2 separate regions of the Homo sapiens genome follow, and region 2 is linked to region 1. A link means that fine-mapping ties the variant in region 1 to the expression of a gene that starts in the linked region. Tissue or cell type: whole blood. Region 1 holds a variant in brackets; the other region holds the start of a gene. All regions are shown on one strand. Distances are from middle to middle.

Region 1 (8,178 bases):
TGTTTGCCAAGATAAGAGTTTGAGAATCCAGCAGCCCTGGGTGCCTGGCTGAATTTGGTTTCCTGCATGTGCTGGGTGTGGGCGGGGCCACGCACAGGCCCTGCATGGGAGGACTCCTCACCCCAGGCCTGTGGTGCTGCAGACAACCGTCTCCTGTCTACACTGCGACCCAGCCACAAGCTGTGGGGTCTCAGTGGCCTGGGGGAAAGCAGCTCCACTCTCCTGCCCTTCCTGGCTGCCCCTTTGGGTTCCAGCCGGGGTCACGTCCAGCCTCCACTGGGAAACCAGTGACTGAGGCCTGGACCCAGAGGTGGACCAGGCATCTCCTGGCCACCTGTGACCTGGGAAGAAGCGAGTCAGTGGCCCGTTCAACCTGCTCTGCAGCTGCTATAAATAGCCTCCCTGTTTCCAAGAGGAGGTAAGGAAGTGTTTATCTTCTAAAAACCAGACGTTTCCTGATGCTCTGAGCGTTACTCAGTGCTACAGAGGAGATGCACACGTCCCCACTATGTTCTGTCTTGAGAAGGGGACAAGAGAAAGAGGAAAAGGAGCCACTGTACTTTATTTTGCACCTACAGCGTGCCTTGGCACTGGGCTAGAGAGGCACCTTCCTGCGTGAATCCTGTGCGGCAGGTCTTATTGCCATAATAAGTCACATCAAAGACACTGCTGGTCATAAAACACTGTTTTACATACCATAGGGAAAAACGCTGCCAATCTTAACTAAGATGCTACAACTGTACAGTTCCTTCCAATCAGAGATGTTCACGTGTGAAAAAAAAACTGTGCTACTTACAATCTATGAAAGCTGGTGTTATCCCACTTGGCAGGTAAGGAAACTGAGGTCCTGTGAGTGAAGTGACCTCATGATCACACAACAGGAGATGGCAGGGCTGGGATTCAAACCCGGGAGTGTCTGCTGCCACATCCCACACTCCCACTGCCTGGCTCCAAGTCCCAGGAAGCTCGAGACTGTGAGTTTTCTCCCTTGAAACTCACCTGGAGAGAGTCCGGGCACCTGTGCCTATGTGGAGGGTTCCAGCCCCAGCCAGGCCCCTCCGCTGCCCACACCCTGGGAGGAGAAGCGGCCTCCCTTCCAGGCTCATCTGCTCACTGCCCGCATTCTCCTGGCAGAGCTGAGGTCTGAGAGATCTGGACTCCAACCCAAGGGCCCTCTCTTGTTATTCAGGGGTGTCCACAGTTAGGAAGGGACCTGGGGCCTTGTCCCACCACCTTCCTAGGCCCCGTGATCACCACCCCCTCAAGCGGGGCCCCAGCCCCCTGAGCACCCCCTCACGTGACCCAGCCCTCGGCTGTTCCAGGCTCACTGCCCATGGTGTGCTCTTCTGGGCCACAGCAGCCAGGGCTCCAGGGCGAGGACAGGGGACACCTGAAAACACCCCGTTGTTCATGGTCTTGTGCCCATTCATTCGGAGACTCCTGAAAAACTGGGCTGTTTGCAAAGCAAATCCAGCTCCTTGTCCTAGCAGGTTCTCAGAACGGGGAGTCCCCTGGGATGGAGCTGCTCCCCTCACGGCAGCACCACGTTTCCAGTCCCTCGATGCCACTAATCAGCATGGACTGTGTTCAGGACACAGGGTGAACTTTTCTCTGACCCCCGGTGCTGGTCCTGTGCCAGCACGTAGTAGTTACTCAGTAGAGGTTTGCTGAGTAAACCAGAAATCAGATTATGAGTGTTCAGGGGTTTGATAAAACAGCACCACATAACGCACACAAAGATACTCCAGAAACATTTGCTGAGTACCTAGTACGTGTGAGGTGCTGTGAGGATAGAGCAGAGAGGACTGTGCCCCAGCTGTGATGCTGGCAGAGGTGACACTAAGAGGGAAATGAGATATTTGGGGCAGAATCCACTGGGCTCTCTTGGCCATCCGCTGCCTTGGGTCTGTTGAGGTGGGTGCCCAAAGGCTGCCTTCTTGACCAGAACCTGCTGTGCGCTTCACAGAACCTCCTCTTCATTGGAAATGCTGGGCACATTGCAGTCAGTGAGCTGCTGCCAAAACGGCGTTAAGTAGAACCCCCAGAGGCCCCGCCGGTTGGTGATCACCCTCAGGTCCTGCCAGGGAGACACAGTGAGGAGGTTGGCTAATTGCTGCTTTCAGGCCCTGGAAATCAGTCGCCAAGGCCCAGGAGAACCCCGGTGAGTCCGTCCAGTTGAGGCAGAGGCAATAACCTCCCATTGCTCGGCCCTGCGCCTGCCCCAGTCCTGGCAGGGGGCACCGGCTCAGGAACATGCGGCCTCCTGGCATTTCTCGGTATTTAACTGTCTCGCTGTCTTATCCGAGTCCCTAATGAAACGACTTGTGTGACAATCTGTCTGTGCCTTACGAAAGTGTCTGTGCACTTTTTATCCTTTTTAAAAGCAACTTTTAAAAGTGGATGGGGAGGGGGGCTAGCATACGTGGTAGGGTTCTAGAAATCTGTGGTCATCGCTGAAATCCTTTTTGCATCATGTTTTTTGATGTTGGAGTGATGAAGTGTACATCCCCCACCCCACACACCACTACCTGTGTACAGACCTTTTAAAACATGTCTTCTTTTTCTGATTCAATACTGTGACCTCTCCGATACAGTCTAATCCTTGGGGATCTGTAATCAAGGTTTTAAAACCTGGGAAGTGGGTTGGGAAGGGTTTGCACTGGTCTTGAGTGTTGTGCTTTTCTGTGTTGTGTGTTTTGATTTTTGTCTTTTTATCTGTTTTATATTGACATAATTTTCCTGTTTAAAAAAATACAACTTTGGCTTGTTAAAAAAAAAAAAGTCTTCAGAACTCAATTTTTAAAATCCCACTTACATACACTGATGGGGAGTGAAGGTGAGGATCCAAATCATTGCCAGTCTTGAGGAAATAAGTTGCAAAATGGCTATAGAACCCCGACAATGTTTGATGCCTTTGCCAAATAACTCACTTCTGTGAAAATCACAAGGAAATCATTCTAATCAAGGATGAGATCTATGTGTAAAGATATTCACTGCAGCATTTTCTAGAGTGGTAAAAAGCTGTGAGCAACCCTCATGTCCAACAACCAGGGTGTATTCACCAAGACTTGGTTACAAGTGACAGAAACCCAACTCGGATAGGTTTTAGGGGGATAAAGAACTAGGGAACTGAAAAGTCCAGTAGCAGAACTCACTCTACGTGCAGGTAGAACCAGGGTCTGAAATGCTGCATCAGGACTAGCCTCTCCCCTCTCGCTCAGCCCTGTGATCTGGCCCCATTCCCAGGCAGGTTCTCAAGATGCCTCCTGCAGGGCCACCAGCATCCTGCCTTTGAGCATTCCCTGCACGGAGCAGCTCAGATCACGTGTCCGCTCCTGAACCAGTCACAGGACAGGGAGATACGGGGCTCTGATTGGTCAGACCCAGGATGGGTGCTCACCTGCACCCAATAGCTGCCCTGTCTGAACTCTGGGCTGAAAGTGGGGAATCGCAATCTCCAGAGAAAATGAGTCCTAAAGAATGCATGCCCAAGGTGGGCAGATCATGAGGTCAAGAGTTCAAGACCATCCTGGCCAACATCATGAAACCGCGTCTACTCAAGATATAAAAAATTAGCTGGGCGTGGTGGCGTGCACCTGTAATCCCAGCTACTCAGGAGGCTAAGGCAGGAGAGTCACTTGAACCTGAGAGGTGGAGGTTGCAGTGAGCCGAGATCGCACCATTGTACTCTAGCCTGGGTGACAGGGCGAGACTCTGTCTAAAAAAAAAAAAAAAAAAAAAAAAGAAGAAGAAGAATGCAGCGTGGGCAAAAACAACAGGCCTCTGTGTAGGGAAC[G/A]GGAAACCATGATACCGATACATATGGGGCTAATGGCATGAGCATGAAGCCAGACTGCCAAGGCCTCACCAAGACATTGGGGAAGATGCTTAACGTCCTTGTGCTTCAGCTTCCTCATCTTCAAAGCAAGAACAATAATAGTTCCTGATTTTAGGATGGGTGTAAATGTTATTGAGATCATACCAGTGATGTGCCAGGCACAGCATCTGGCACCCAGCACCAAGCAACAATTGTTAGTTTGTAACACAGGAACGGGTTTATGTTAAAGTGTGGTTAAAAAAAAAATCAAGATATAAAATTGCACATACACCGTGATCTCACAGATGAAAAAAAAAACAAAAACACCAACAGCCCAAAAACCTACCCATGCATTGGAAAGACCAGAAAGAAAGGAGTGAAATGTCCATGAGGGCTGTGTCTGAGTGATGGCCTTATTGGTGCCTTTTTCTCATACTTGCTCATTATAGAAAATTTCCCAAATTTCCCAAATTTTCTATAATGAGCAAGTATGACTTTTCATTTAAACTTGTTACTTGGAAAAAATGATCTCCCTACTCTGCAAAAGCCAAAGAGAACAGCTGGCCCTTGCTGGAATTTGTCAGGAATTCCCAGGCTGATTGTCTGTGAGTTTAAGATCCAAATTTAGTCCGGTGGAGATAAGGACCTGTACGTTTCTAGCAGAGGCCAGGCCAGGCTGACCAGTTTGGTTGGGCTTCCTCCAGGCTAGGTTTTGGGGCCCAAATTTCTGGGGTGGAACATGGCAGTGGTAGCAGGAGTGGGAGCTGGGAGTAGGGGAATGGGGTGAACAAGGAGAGGGAGCTGCCCAGGCCTGCTCCTTCTGGATGGTTAGAAGAGCCTGGCTTGGTGACACTGAGTTTTAGGAAGCAATGGGATAAGAGAAACCAGCATTTATCAAGCAGCACAAACCATGGTTCTCACACATTCTCACAATGGATCTTCACAATAGTGTTCTCATTTTACAGGCAAGGAGGCCAAAGTCAAAGTAGGATTGGCCCCCAGGTGGGCCTGCTCCAGAGTCAAGGCAAAATCTTTCAGAGACACATTTCGCACCCCTTTACCAAAGTCTTAGTGAGGGGCCGAGTCTGTCCAAAACCCAGGATCCTTTCTCCCCTTCCAGATTTCCTTCCCACAACGCTATGTCCTTCTACTGGACCAGGCAACATTTTCACAGACGCTATCTGATAATCAAAACTTTTTTGAATAAAGAAAAAAAGGTAGGGCCAGGCGTGGTGGCTCAAGCCTGTAATCCCAGCACTTTGGAGGCCAAAGCGGGTGGATCACCTGAGGTCAGGAGTTCGAGACCAGCCTGGACCACATGGTGAAACCTCGTCTCTACTAAAAATACAAAAAATTAGCCAGGTGTGGTGGTGTGCACCTGTAATCCCAGCTACTCAGGAGGCTGAGGCAGGAGAATGGCTTGAACCCAGGAGGCGGAGGTTGCAGTAAGCTGAGATCGTGCCACTGTACTCCAGCCTGGGCAACAAGAGCAAAACTCTATCTCAAAAAAGAAAAGAAAAAAAGGTCATATTAATCTAGGCCCACTGCATTGTAAGAGACTGAAACCCAATTTAAGAAAAAAAAAAAAAAGAGCGGGCAGAATGTACTGACTCACGCCCAGAACAGATCAGTCTAGCTTCAGGAACAGCTAGATCCGGGTATTCACATGATGTTGTCAGGCCTCTGCCTCTGTCTCTCAGTTCTGCCTTCCTCTGAGCTGATGGCACTCTCAGGCAGACTCTCCCTTTGCAGCAACCAGAACAACCTCCAGTGACTCATATCATGCCAGTTTAGTGACCCTTTAAAAAAGTTTCGGGAAAAGTCCCAGTGCTGTCTCTCCTTTGACTCCTTGGATCAAAAGCTCAATCCCTGAACCTGTCACATGCCCACACCTGATACAAAACTAGGTATGGTATGGCCCTTACCCTCAAGAACCAACCAATCTGGAGGGGAAGGCAGACCCCTAAACAGACATGTTTAGACCAGTGCACTTCTGAAGCTGTGGGAACGATCCAATTCAGGCCACGAGGGCTCGGGATCATTTAGCGATGCAGTTAGGCATCCTTCTTTCTCCTGGCCCTGTGTGTTCTTACCAACACCTGAGCCATGTTCCCTGGCACATCCAATTCCTCCTCCCATGCTGCAGTGCACACAGCCCGTGCGCTGGCCCTCACCAGCCCCTGCCACCTGCGGTGCACCTAGCCTGGTGCGGTGGGGGTTCACTATTGTGCATGCAAATCCCTTTTTCTCATTCCCTGAGTTCCTGCAGGACAAGAAATCCTCCAGAAAGATAATAATACCAGATCATTTAATAAGCACTTAGTGTGTGCAAAGGACATCCATGACATCAGTAAATCCTCACAACAGTTCTCTGAAGTGGCTCCATCATTACCTTCATTTTACAGGCAAGAAGCCAAGACTGAGAAGGAATCAGTAACTTTCTCCTACTTTATATGGCCTCTCAAAGACAAAAAGTTTCTTCGCTTTCTGTTTGTAATTATGTCCTTGGACCTAGACCCCCTGGTTCCCAAGTGCAAATGGGCCTAGAACATTTGCAGCTGTGATTTCACAGACTCCCACCAGCCACCCATTGTATTACGGTCCCATTTTACAGGGAGGGGAAGGGGCTGCCCCACATCACACTGCTTAGGAGCTGTGGGGCCAGGATTTGAACCAGGCCTGGCTCTTTCCACCACATCACAGCATGTCTGTGGGTACATTGTCAGGAGGAGGGGGAGGGAAAGGAGGAAGGAGAGTAAGAAGAAAAGGACAAGAAAAAAACAGCCAGATTCAGCACCTCGAAGGGCTTTTTCTAGAAGAACATCAGCTGTGTCCTGACTCACACAATGCCTATCCGTTCAATTCCAGGGACAGGGAATATTTGCTTTTCCCTTCAGGCTCTGATCTCCCAGCTCTTGGAAGCTCCCACACAGGGATGTGGAAAACACGATTATTCCAGGCATCGAGCTATGGGAACAGAACCCCGACCTTGGCTGTTAAATACACCTATGGAGAAGCTTCCAGAAGCCCAGCAGTGGGGTGTGTTGGGGAGGAGATGCATCAAAACGAAATGCCTCAGGCAGCCTGATCCCCTTTCGTCAGCCTCCTCCCCTCTCAGCTTGGGCCTTCCCAGGTCTAAACCCTTCTCCCCAGACAGACAGCCTGACTCTCCTGACTCTCCGACTGGCCAGCGAAGACCTTGGCCATCCTTTCAGGAGCATGTGGGCCTGCTTAGGAGGGCTGGGCCGGCCTAACTGAGTTCACATCCATGCTCTGCCCCAGCCAGCAGAGGACCTGCCCTCCCCACTGGGCTTCCTAAGGGTGCCTCTCACATACCAAACTTTACGTGAATGTGCCCCCTGTAGCTGCACGATGGGGATGCCCCCTTCTGAGCCTCCCCCTCGTGGCCCCTACGTGGGCCCTGTAAGACCACACCCTCCCTCAGCCCTTAGGAGGCTGCATCCTGGCATCTTAGCTCTGAGCTGGGGTTTCCAGTGTGATGGGGTCTAGTGTGGTGGGTGAGTTCCCTCCAGCTGAGGGGACAGGCCTGCCTGTGCTGTGGGATCTTGGGCAAGTTACATACCCTCTCTGAACCTCAGTTTCTGCAGCTTCGAAGGAAGAGGGGTGTCAAATTGTGTCAGAAAGTGGCTGGCATATAGCAGGTGCTAAATGTTTTTTAGGAGTATTCTAGACCCTGCTACACCAGCTACCCCTCGCCCATGCCCTCCCCTGTCCCATCTGGGCCAGGGGCTGCCTCCATCCTCCTACAACCTCCTGGGCCTCCCGTGCCACCTCAGTGAGCCTGCCCTGCGACACTGTCAGCAGCATCTGCAGGTGACGCGGCGCATCCCCGGCTCCCAACACAGGGTCTACCAAACAGGAGAGTCTTAGTGTGTACACCCCTCACCCACACCCAGCGTGGAATTTCTGGCATTAGCACACCTCCCTTCCACAAAGAATGAACCGGAGTGGTGATCTGCTGGTGGGGTCGTGCCAGGCCTCGGGGCTGGCCCAGGCCCCCGCCCCTTGCTTGTCTTGGTTCCCAGTCAAGAGCGCTGGCCCCAGGCCTGGGAGGCTGACCGACCTCAGACTCCAAGGGGAAAGCCACACTTTTGCTCAACTCCCAGGAGCAGCCCCGCATTCCAGGAGGGGCGTGGGAAGCACCAAGCCTTCCCCAACTGAGCTGAGCGGGGAGCTGCCTGCAGCCACGCTGGCCCCCCCAGCCTCAACGCTGGCCCAAGCCCACTTTGGGTTCCCCAGGGACAACCACCCCACCTCAGAGGGATGGAGATGGGGCTCTGAGAGATTGCCACGGCCACCCCAGGAAAGAAACACCAGGATGTTCCCAGGAACCCTCTCTGGCT
Region 2 (8,178 bases), 52 kb before region 1:
ACTTGTGTTAATGACCATGCCGCCATGCTGGGACAAGGATCACTCAGAGGGTGTAGCGTGGGGCCCACTATGCGGCTGGCACTTTGTAACCAGCAACTGAAAAATGATGCTTTTTCAGGTAAAGATCTGTTGGAAATTGAAGGTTTCGTAGTCAGGGTTTGTAGAAAAGCACAGCCTTCCTGCAGCCATTTTAAAACCGAGCTTTGCAGTGTGACTGCAGATACTCGGCTCTTGAGTTGTGAGGAGGAGGCTGGGCAAACACCCTGAAGGAAGGGGTCATTTCACGCAGGTATCTGCAGTGGGCATACCCCCTAGCCTGGCACAGCAGCTCAGTGTGCACCCTTTTTACAACATGCACCTGATTGCCTGTTATTGCATGGGGCAGGGCCTGCCAGGGCATGCCCCCAGGGAGCAATGCCAGGGAGCCCGGCCAGGGCACTCCCACTACCAACTGCCCCGGGAGGCTCTGCTGACGCTGCATAATCAAGAGAGACAGCCCCACCCAGAGGCCCCTGCAGCCCATGTATGGGTACTGGTGCTAAAGGAGGGTGGCACAGTCTGTGCAATTCTGGATGTGATTGGTAGAGATGTGTATGTGTGTGAAAGTCAAATCCAGGAGCTGCTGTGACTGGAGGCTGCTGCCCGGGCCGGAAGATGTCCCCACCCCATGCTCTGCCCCACAGGCTCTATGGCAGCCGTTAGTGTCTGCGGGTTCTGGTTCTGAGACCCCACCCGTTCCTCTGCAGCCCTGGTGTCCTGCCGCCTTGGCGCCTGGGCAGAGCTGTCCTCTCTAACTTTAAGGGACACTGCTTAGAAGATGAGGCTTGGATATGGGCACACGTAGGTTCACATCCCAACTCCTCTTAGCAGCTGCAGAGACTTAGGCATGTGACTTTACCTGTCTGAGGCTTGGTGTCCTCGTTTGGAAAATGGGGATGCTAGAACCTATCTCCTTGGATGTGGTATGACTATAATATTTGGAGAAGGAAGAGATTCACATTCCATCCCTGTGGTTATAAAGTCTCCTGTGCGGCAGGTGCTGAGTCCAACAGTCCCTTCCCTTCCCTTGTTGCTGTTAGACATAGTGCCTGGATCCCAGGCCCCTAATACATGCAGACAGCATTTCCACAGTGTCCCGGCCAGCCCTGCTTGGGAGCTAGTGGGAAGAGGTGAGATTGGGAGAGGCAACAAAAATGGGAGGCCCACATCCCAGGAGATCAGCTTGGTACACAAGCTGCAAAGACAGGGGAGCACCTCTGCAGTCCTCTCAGGGTCAGTAGAGGCAGGACCAATCAGACTCATAAACCTCAAACCATAAATCACCCCCATGGCTTCATGTGGGTTGTAGGGGCTCAGTGGATGATTGTACTGGAAGGTATACTTTAGAAGACATGTGACTCAGGAAGCCCCTCCTCAACTGCCTGGCAGGAAATATATGGTTTCTATTTGCACACCTCCTGGGACAGGGATCTCCCTCTCTCCCAAAGCCACCCTTCCACCTTCGTGGACTAGCTTTGTCCTCCTTCTCTAGTGTGGTGCCCAGAGCCAAAGCGACTTCTGGAATGGTCTAACCAACATGCACTGGAGCAGCAAGCCCCTCCTTTGTCCTAAAGACTATATTTCTGTTAATGCATCCCTATTTTGCTCATTTGCTTATTTTTCCCTGCACATATTACTATTCATCACACCAGGGTCTAGGGCTACTAATGGCAAAAACTCATTCTCTCACAGCTCTTTCTCTCCTCTCCCTTCTTATTACCTTTCTCCATTCCTTCTTTCTTCCCTCTCTCCTTCTTTTCTGTTTTTCTCTCAGCTCAGGGCAATGCATCTCTGCAGTCAATTTATGCAAATGTGTATTGAGCACCTGTGTCTGCCAGCCCTGTTCTGGGCACTGGGGTTTCCTAGATGATTACAGCCTTCTTCCTGCCTGCAGGAGCATCCTGTCTGGCAGTGGAGAGGACGCAAAGGTAACAGCTACAACACCTGTCTTGAGGGTGTAATTGAGGGGACAGCACAAAGTGCAGAGGGATCTCAGATGGGTGAGCAACTGCTGTATGTGCCCAAATATAAGGTAATCCAAGTAAAGATTACAGGCAATCCCCATTCTCCCTATGAGAAGATGCACTTTCTTATTGAATAATATAAACTTAATGGGGTGAAGATGAAATAGACATCTACTTGAAATATTTCATTTATTACTTTAGTTATATAAACATATTTGCAATTATTCTCATAGAGAATACTAATATGGAAAGATTGCTTTTGGCAGTTTCAAATTTCAGGAAACAATTTGATTCTAATTCTTTTCTGTGTGGCTTTGACACTAGTGTCACCATCGTGTGTGTTGGGGGCAGCTTTTTACTAGAGCAGGTCCTACTCTCAGAGATCCAGAGGCTAACACACAGCCCTTTCGAATCCACATGTCAGGCAACTGCTGGGCACAGTGTCTCCACCGCAGGTCCAATCCGCATCACATTTTGACAGTAGGGATTCATTTGCTGCAGGTGAGTATTTGTGATCTGCACAACATGGCCACTTACTGAGGTACTCTGAAAGTGGCCTTTAAAAGGCCTGTTCACAACCTCTCACCCTTGCCGTCACAAAGTCATATTTGTTTGCATTGCCTTATCTGAGGAAAATTCCCTCAATTCCCTTTATAATATTGCTGACCTCCATATGCAACCCAATGTCACATAGATTAAAGGAGGATCAGCCAGGTGAGGTGGCTTAGGCCTGTAATCCCAGCACTTTGGGAGGCTGAGGTGGGGGAACCGCTTGAGGTCAGAAGTTTGAGACCAGCCTGGCCAACATGATGAAATCCCATCTCTACTAAAAATACAAAAATTAGCGGGGCGTGGTAGTGGGTGCCTGTAATCCCAGCTACTCAAGAGGCTGAGGCAGGAGAATTGCTTGAACTTGGTAGGCAGAGGTTGCAGTGAGCCAAGATTGTGCCATTCCACTCCAGCCTGGGTGACAGAGTGAGACTCTGTCTCAAAAAAAAAAAGAAAAAAAAAAAGGATCACGCTAACGGACCTTTCTCAAACAGAACTTTGGGGTTAAAAATTAAGTCACTGGGCGAGCACCTGTAATATGAGAAATTAGTAACTCAAATGCAAGGCAATCTTATGTTCAGACATATGACGTCAGGGGGGAGTGGGGAATCAAGGTTTCCCGGAAGTGGAAGCTTGGAGCTGGCCTTAAAGACCCTAGAACCCTCTGGGATGGGTCATGTACTGTAAGCAGAAGGCACCGGAGATGCAGAAGGCTGTCTCCTGAATACCCCGCTTTTATTCGCATAGCTTCAGGCTAGCTTTGCCCTGTACCATTGGAAGATCTTGGGCACCTCTCTTCCACTCTCAGAGCCTCAATTTCCCTATCTGTGAAATGGAAGTAATAATACATATTTCATAAAGTCTCAAGGGATACAAGAGCATGAAAAATAGAATTGAAAAAAACAGCTCATTTGGAATCGGGTCTTCTTGGGGAAGTCATTGCACTTCCTGGGCCTCAGCGTTCCAGCCTGTGAAATGGAGCTCGAGAAGGGCACAGCTGCACTTCCCACTGAGTGTGGTCCAGGTGCCTGAATGAGGAATGCCTGTTACTGCCTCTGCCAGGAACACTCTACCTATCTCTTCTCATGGCCGACGCCTTCTAGTCCATCAGATGGAGCTTATGTGCCCCCACCCCAGATTCTCCCTATGCCCCCAAACAATGTCATCTCCTCACTCTACTGGGATCTGTTTTATTTTCTTCCTGGCTTTGATTATTATATAATGTGATCGTAATTGCTTGTTATTTCTATCTTCAGCATGCCATCTCCAGGGCAGTGGGGACCTTGTCTGTATCTACCCGGCCCAGCACAGTGCCTGGTGCATAGACTGTGCTCAATAAATATTTTAGTGAATGAGCGAATAAATTAATGAATGTGGGTTCCCTCTTCCCAATCTTTGGACACTGGGTTTCTTCTATTCCTCGGTACCTGGCCTAGGGGATAGAAAAGACTCCACCCAAACCCGGGAACCCTGGGTGTACTGTCTCCAAGCCCTTTACATGGTCCCAGGGGCCCGTCTGCCTCTGTGTAAGTTCCCCCGGGGCCGAAGCACTCTCCAAAGAGGTCTGCCGGGGCTAGGACTCGGCCGGCTGGGGCCCCGCGCCTGGAAGAGGGCCTGGCACACAGTGGGCCTTCTCAAAGTGTTAGAACAAATGGGTGACAGGCCAGCAGACTGCCGATCCTGGCACCCGAGGGCACCCAGCTGCCCTGCGCGCCTTCCCGGCCCGGGCGCGGGAGCGGCGAGGGCGGGAGGCTTGGCTGTGCTTCTCCCGCCGCCTGGTGCAAACTTTCAAAAGATGCGGCGGCCGCGGCCCCGCCCCTGCACTGTTGGAGGCGGTGGGAGGCGGGGGCGGAGCCGGCGGGCCCGGGCCGGTGGCTCCGCCTCCTCCTCCCGCAGGCGCCGCCGCCGCCTCCCTCCCGGCTCCCGCCCCAGCTGCCGCCCGCCGGCTCGCCCGTGCAGCTGCGATGCCCCGGAGCGTCGACCCCGGTCCTGGTCCCTGGCCCGCCGCGTAATTAGCCTCCGCGCGCCCAGAGCGCGCCGCCGCCAACGCCGCGCCCGACGCAGCGATGGGCAACACGGTGCACCGGACCCTGCCAGGTACGCCGGGGAGCCCTGCCCGGGAGGCGGGCGCCGGGCTTCTCTCCTCCGGGGGACCCGCTGGGTGACTCTGGAGAGCTACCCCACGGCCCTTGGAGCCCTCGGCTCGCAGCGGGCTGGAGTCTCCGGTACCTCCCGGACCTCAGCTCGGCGCGCGCCCCGCGGCTGGGCTTTGCGCCCCGGGAGGGCGGGTACCGCGTCCTGGTTACCTTGGGGACCCCAGTCCTCATTCTCCCGGCTTTGGCCAGATGCGCAAAAAGGGCCGCTGGGGCGATGCCGCGCGCCCCCTCGCCTTTGTTCCAGCCCGAGGGCGCTGATGAGCAAACTCAAGGCGACCTGGGTGGGGGTGACTGGAGCCGGGCTCGCCAGGGCTTCCGACGGTCAGAAGCCACCCGTGGTGCCAAGACTGCAGCTGCCGAGAGTGAGGGGTGCTCTCAGGGGCACCCCAGTTTCCAGCCTCCCAGCGCCCCCGCGGCACATGCTGCCGTGCTTTGGCCACGTTCCCACGCGCACCCCGGTTGCGCCCCCCTCTGGTGTCCGCTCCACTGGGGACTCCTTCGCCCCCTCGGAGTCGCTGCTGCAGATCGCATCGCCCCCTAGTTAAAATCGCCCCAGAATTTCTGGGACCGGAGTGAGGGGATCCGGAGCAGGTTAACGGGGTAGGAGGAGGCCTTACTGGAAAATACATGGTAATTGTGGGAACAGATCAGCGGTCCCGCGCCCGCGCGTGCCCGTGGAGGTTCAGTGCCCAGCACTTTGCATACCCCAGCTCGGTATGCAAAGAAGCTTCGCGATAAAGATGTGTATCCCAGTTTTACAAATAAAAAAATTGAGTGTCAGAAGAGGTGAAATGACTCACCCAAGGTCACACAGCTAGTAGTGGGAGAATCTGGAGTGGGACCTGTGTCTCTCTGCCCTCCCTCCCCTCACACGCCCAAGTATTTAGAAGTATTTTGTCTTAAGGCTGGGCCTTTGTAGCATCCTTTGGGCAAAAGGTGAGAGGAGTGTGTGTGTGTCTAAAGCACAAAGGCTCGGCTCAATGGGGAAGCAAGTCAGCTGTGAGGTTAATTTAGTGTGAGGTTCTGGAAGAGGGACATATCACCCCATCTCTGCTATAACACTCCCATATAGCTCTCCCTTCTAGGCATTACATGCTCTTAAAGAATAATTTCCCCTGGAGCGGGTTGAAGTGGACAGTGCTGAGCCCAGGATTCCCAGGGTCAGCTTATGGAAGAGGAGCCAACTCCTACTTTACAAGCCTCTGAGCAACTGCACTCAAACGTTCAAATTCCCAGAGAGCTGTAATCATCAGCAGAGTCACCAGCTAGTCAGTGGCAGAGGTGGGATTAGAACCCAGGTCTGCTTACTGGAGGGTGGCCTCTACCTCCTGTGGACAGGGCTATTGCCAGGTTGGGGGAGAACCCACCCGCGGGTCAGGAGATATCTGGGGATGTTGGCAAATAGGGCAGCAGATATTCTCGCCACATAGACACTGGGATGAGGCACCTCGGCACAGGCCCCTTTCCTTGGTTTCTTAATTTAAAAATGTTTATACTATTCTAGTAAAAAGCCATTCTGCCACCTGTGGGTCAGCCCTGGGGTGCGTAAAGGGACAGACACACGCCAGGCAGGCTAAATATAGCTAGAGATTTATGTATTCTCCATCCCTCTCAACTCTCTCTCTGTGGACTGGGCCACCCTAGTCTGGGAGCCGGCAGTTAAGGTTGGTTACCCACTGCAGTGTCTAAGTATGGGGAATTCAGACTCTTCTCTGGGGATTGAAGCTTGCACTGAGTTTGAGGAAGGGGTCAGAACCGGAATTCCTGAGTCACATCGGGTGGCAGATGCCAAGAATATGAAGGGCCGTTAATTGTTTTCCGACCTACCAGTATGAGTTTCTTGCACACCCTGTGCTGTTTTTTGTACCTCTGTGCTTGGCATGTGATGGTCCCCATGCATGGATTGTCCTTTCTTGTCTAGTCTGCCTTTCAAAATCCAGTTGTCGTTACCTCCTCCAGGAAGCTTTCCCTGACCACCCACAGTCTCATCCTTTGCTCTGCTATCTGGATGCCTGAAGTCCTTTCCTGCTCATCGTTGCAATGACTGCATTGTCACTGCCTGTCTCTGTGACTCTTTGCGGTTCCCTGAGGACAGAGCCCTTGTCTTGATCATCTTGTATCCCTGGTTGCCCATCCCAGAGACTGGTGCCTGGCAAGGGCTCAAAAACTGGTGGTGGAGCTCGAATGTTGCCTGAATCTTAGGCTGAAGGAACACTTGGCACAGTCTTGCCCTGTAGAATCCTTGTGCTTTCGTTCTCAGGAAAAGGACACATGCGTGGGGTTCTTTCTGCGGGACTTGAAATAGAGAGCTGGCATTTGCTGAGCACCTGGATTCCATGCCAGGCTTCCTGCATATGTGGCTTCATTTACACGCCAAGCATGCTTCTCCTCAAGGCTTCTGCACTTCCTGATCCCTCTCCCCGGCACATTCTTCTGCCCTCCTCCCCATGGCTCCCACCAGGCTTCCTTGGGGTCTCTGCTTGAACGAGGGGCCTGCTGTTGCCCCAACCCCACTCACTCCTTTGACCCAGCTTTAAGTTTCTCCTTAGCACGTGTCACTATGCGACACGCTGTATGTGTAGTTAGCAGTTTCTTGTCTGTCTCCCCCAGGGAGATTTTGTCTGTTTTATTCACTGCTATACGTTTAGCACCTGGAGCAGTGGCTAGTACAGAGTAAATGTTCAGTAAGTACGTGTTGGATGGGATGAATGGATGAATTTAATTCTTCTAACATCCCTGCAATGTAGGCATTATCATCTCCATATTACAGTTGAGAAGCCGAGGCTCAGAGAGGTAAAGTGGCTTGTCCCAGCTCACACAGTTCACCTAGTTGGCAGAACTGGGATTGCAATTTAGGTTAACTTAGCTCCAAAGTCCTGCATTCTTATTCTGACATGCTGTGGCCTCCCAGCCCGTGATTTAGATAACATTTATTGGGTTCCCCACCATGCACGTGGCATGCTACACTATACAATAAGGAAATGCCAAAGAAAGGGAAGGTTGTTTATGATCGATTGCGGAAGCCTCTTGGCAGCTCTTGCAAAGTGCATCAGCATATTCAGAGAAATGCCCTTTAAACAGAACGTGCAGCACAGGACCTCACATCTACTAAGCTCCTACTGTGTGCTCTACACTCTCTTTCCAGTTGCAACTCAACCCTGCAAAGTAAGGTGCCATTCTCCACCATTTTAAAGAGATTAAGACACTTTGCATACAGTTAGGCAGTGGCAAAGCTGGGCTTAAAAGACTGAGACCTGTCTGACTCCTCATACCATGTAGTCCTTCTCTCTCGAGTCCGTTAGCCTTCATCTGGGTATTTGAAGGGAGAAAAAAAGTGTAAGCAGGTGGGGATAGGGGAGGGCAGCGTTCCAGGATGAGAGTGAGGGGAGGTGGAGGGAGGGACTCATCCCCTTCTCCTAACAGCACATTCCAATCCCTTCCTTCTCGCCTCTTGGGCTCACCTGCAGCTC

Evidence for each region. PIP is the estimated chance that this variant, and not a neighbour inherited with it, causes the effect.
Region 2: NEURL1B starts here. The variant in region 1 is fine-mapped to the expression of NEURL1B in whole blood (TOPMed, PIP above 0.99).

Annotation. Positions count from the first base shown.
Region 1 is chr5:172,688,760-172,696,937 of GRCh38, forward strand. It overlaps NEURL1B (neuralized E3 ubiquitin protein ligase 1B), which reads left to right. Exons shown (of 5, transcript NM_001142651.3): 5 at 1-2,781. All of the region lies in intron 2 of LOC107986479 (a long non-coding RNA gene), which reads right to left. Among named protein-coding and RNA genes, the nearest start is that of MIR5003, 31 kb to the left of the region's middle. RefSeq lists a silencer at 1,784-1,843. The variant G/A (reference allele first, on the strand shown) is at 3,797.
Region 2 is chr5:172,636,789-172,644,966 of GRCh38, forward strand. It overlaps NEURL1B (neuralized E3 ubiquitin protein ligase 1B), which reads left to right and starts at 4,475. Exons shown (of 5, transcript NM_001142651.3): 1 at 4,475-4,649. The coding sequence starts at 4,619. It overlaps LOC107986478 (a long non-coding RNA gene), which reads left to right. Exons shown (of 3, transcript XR_001742996.2): 3 at 1-1,690. RefSeq lists a silencer at 4,237-4,526.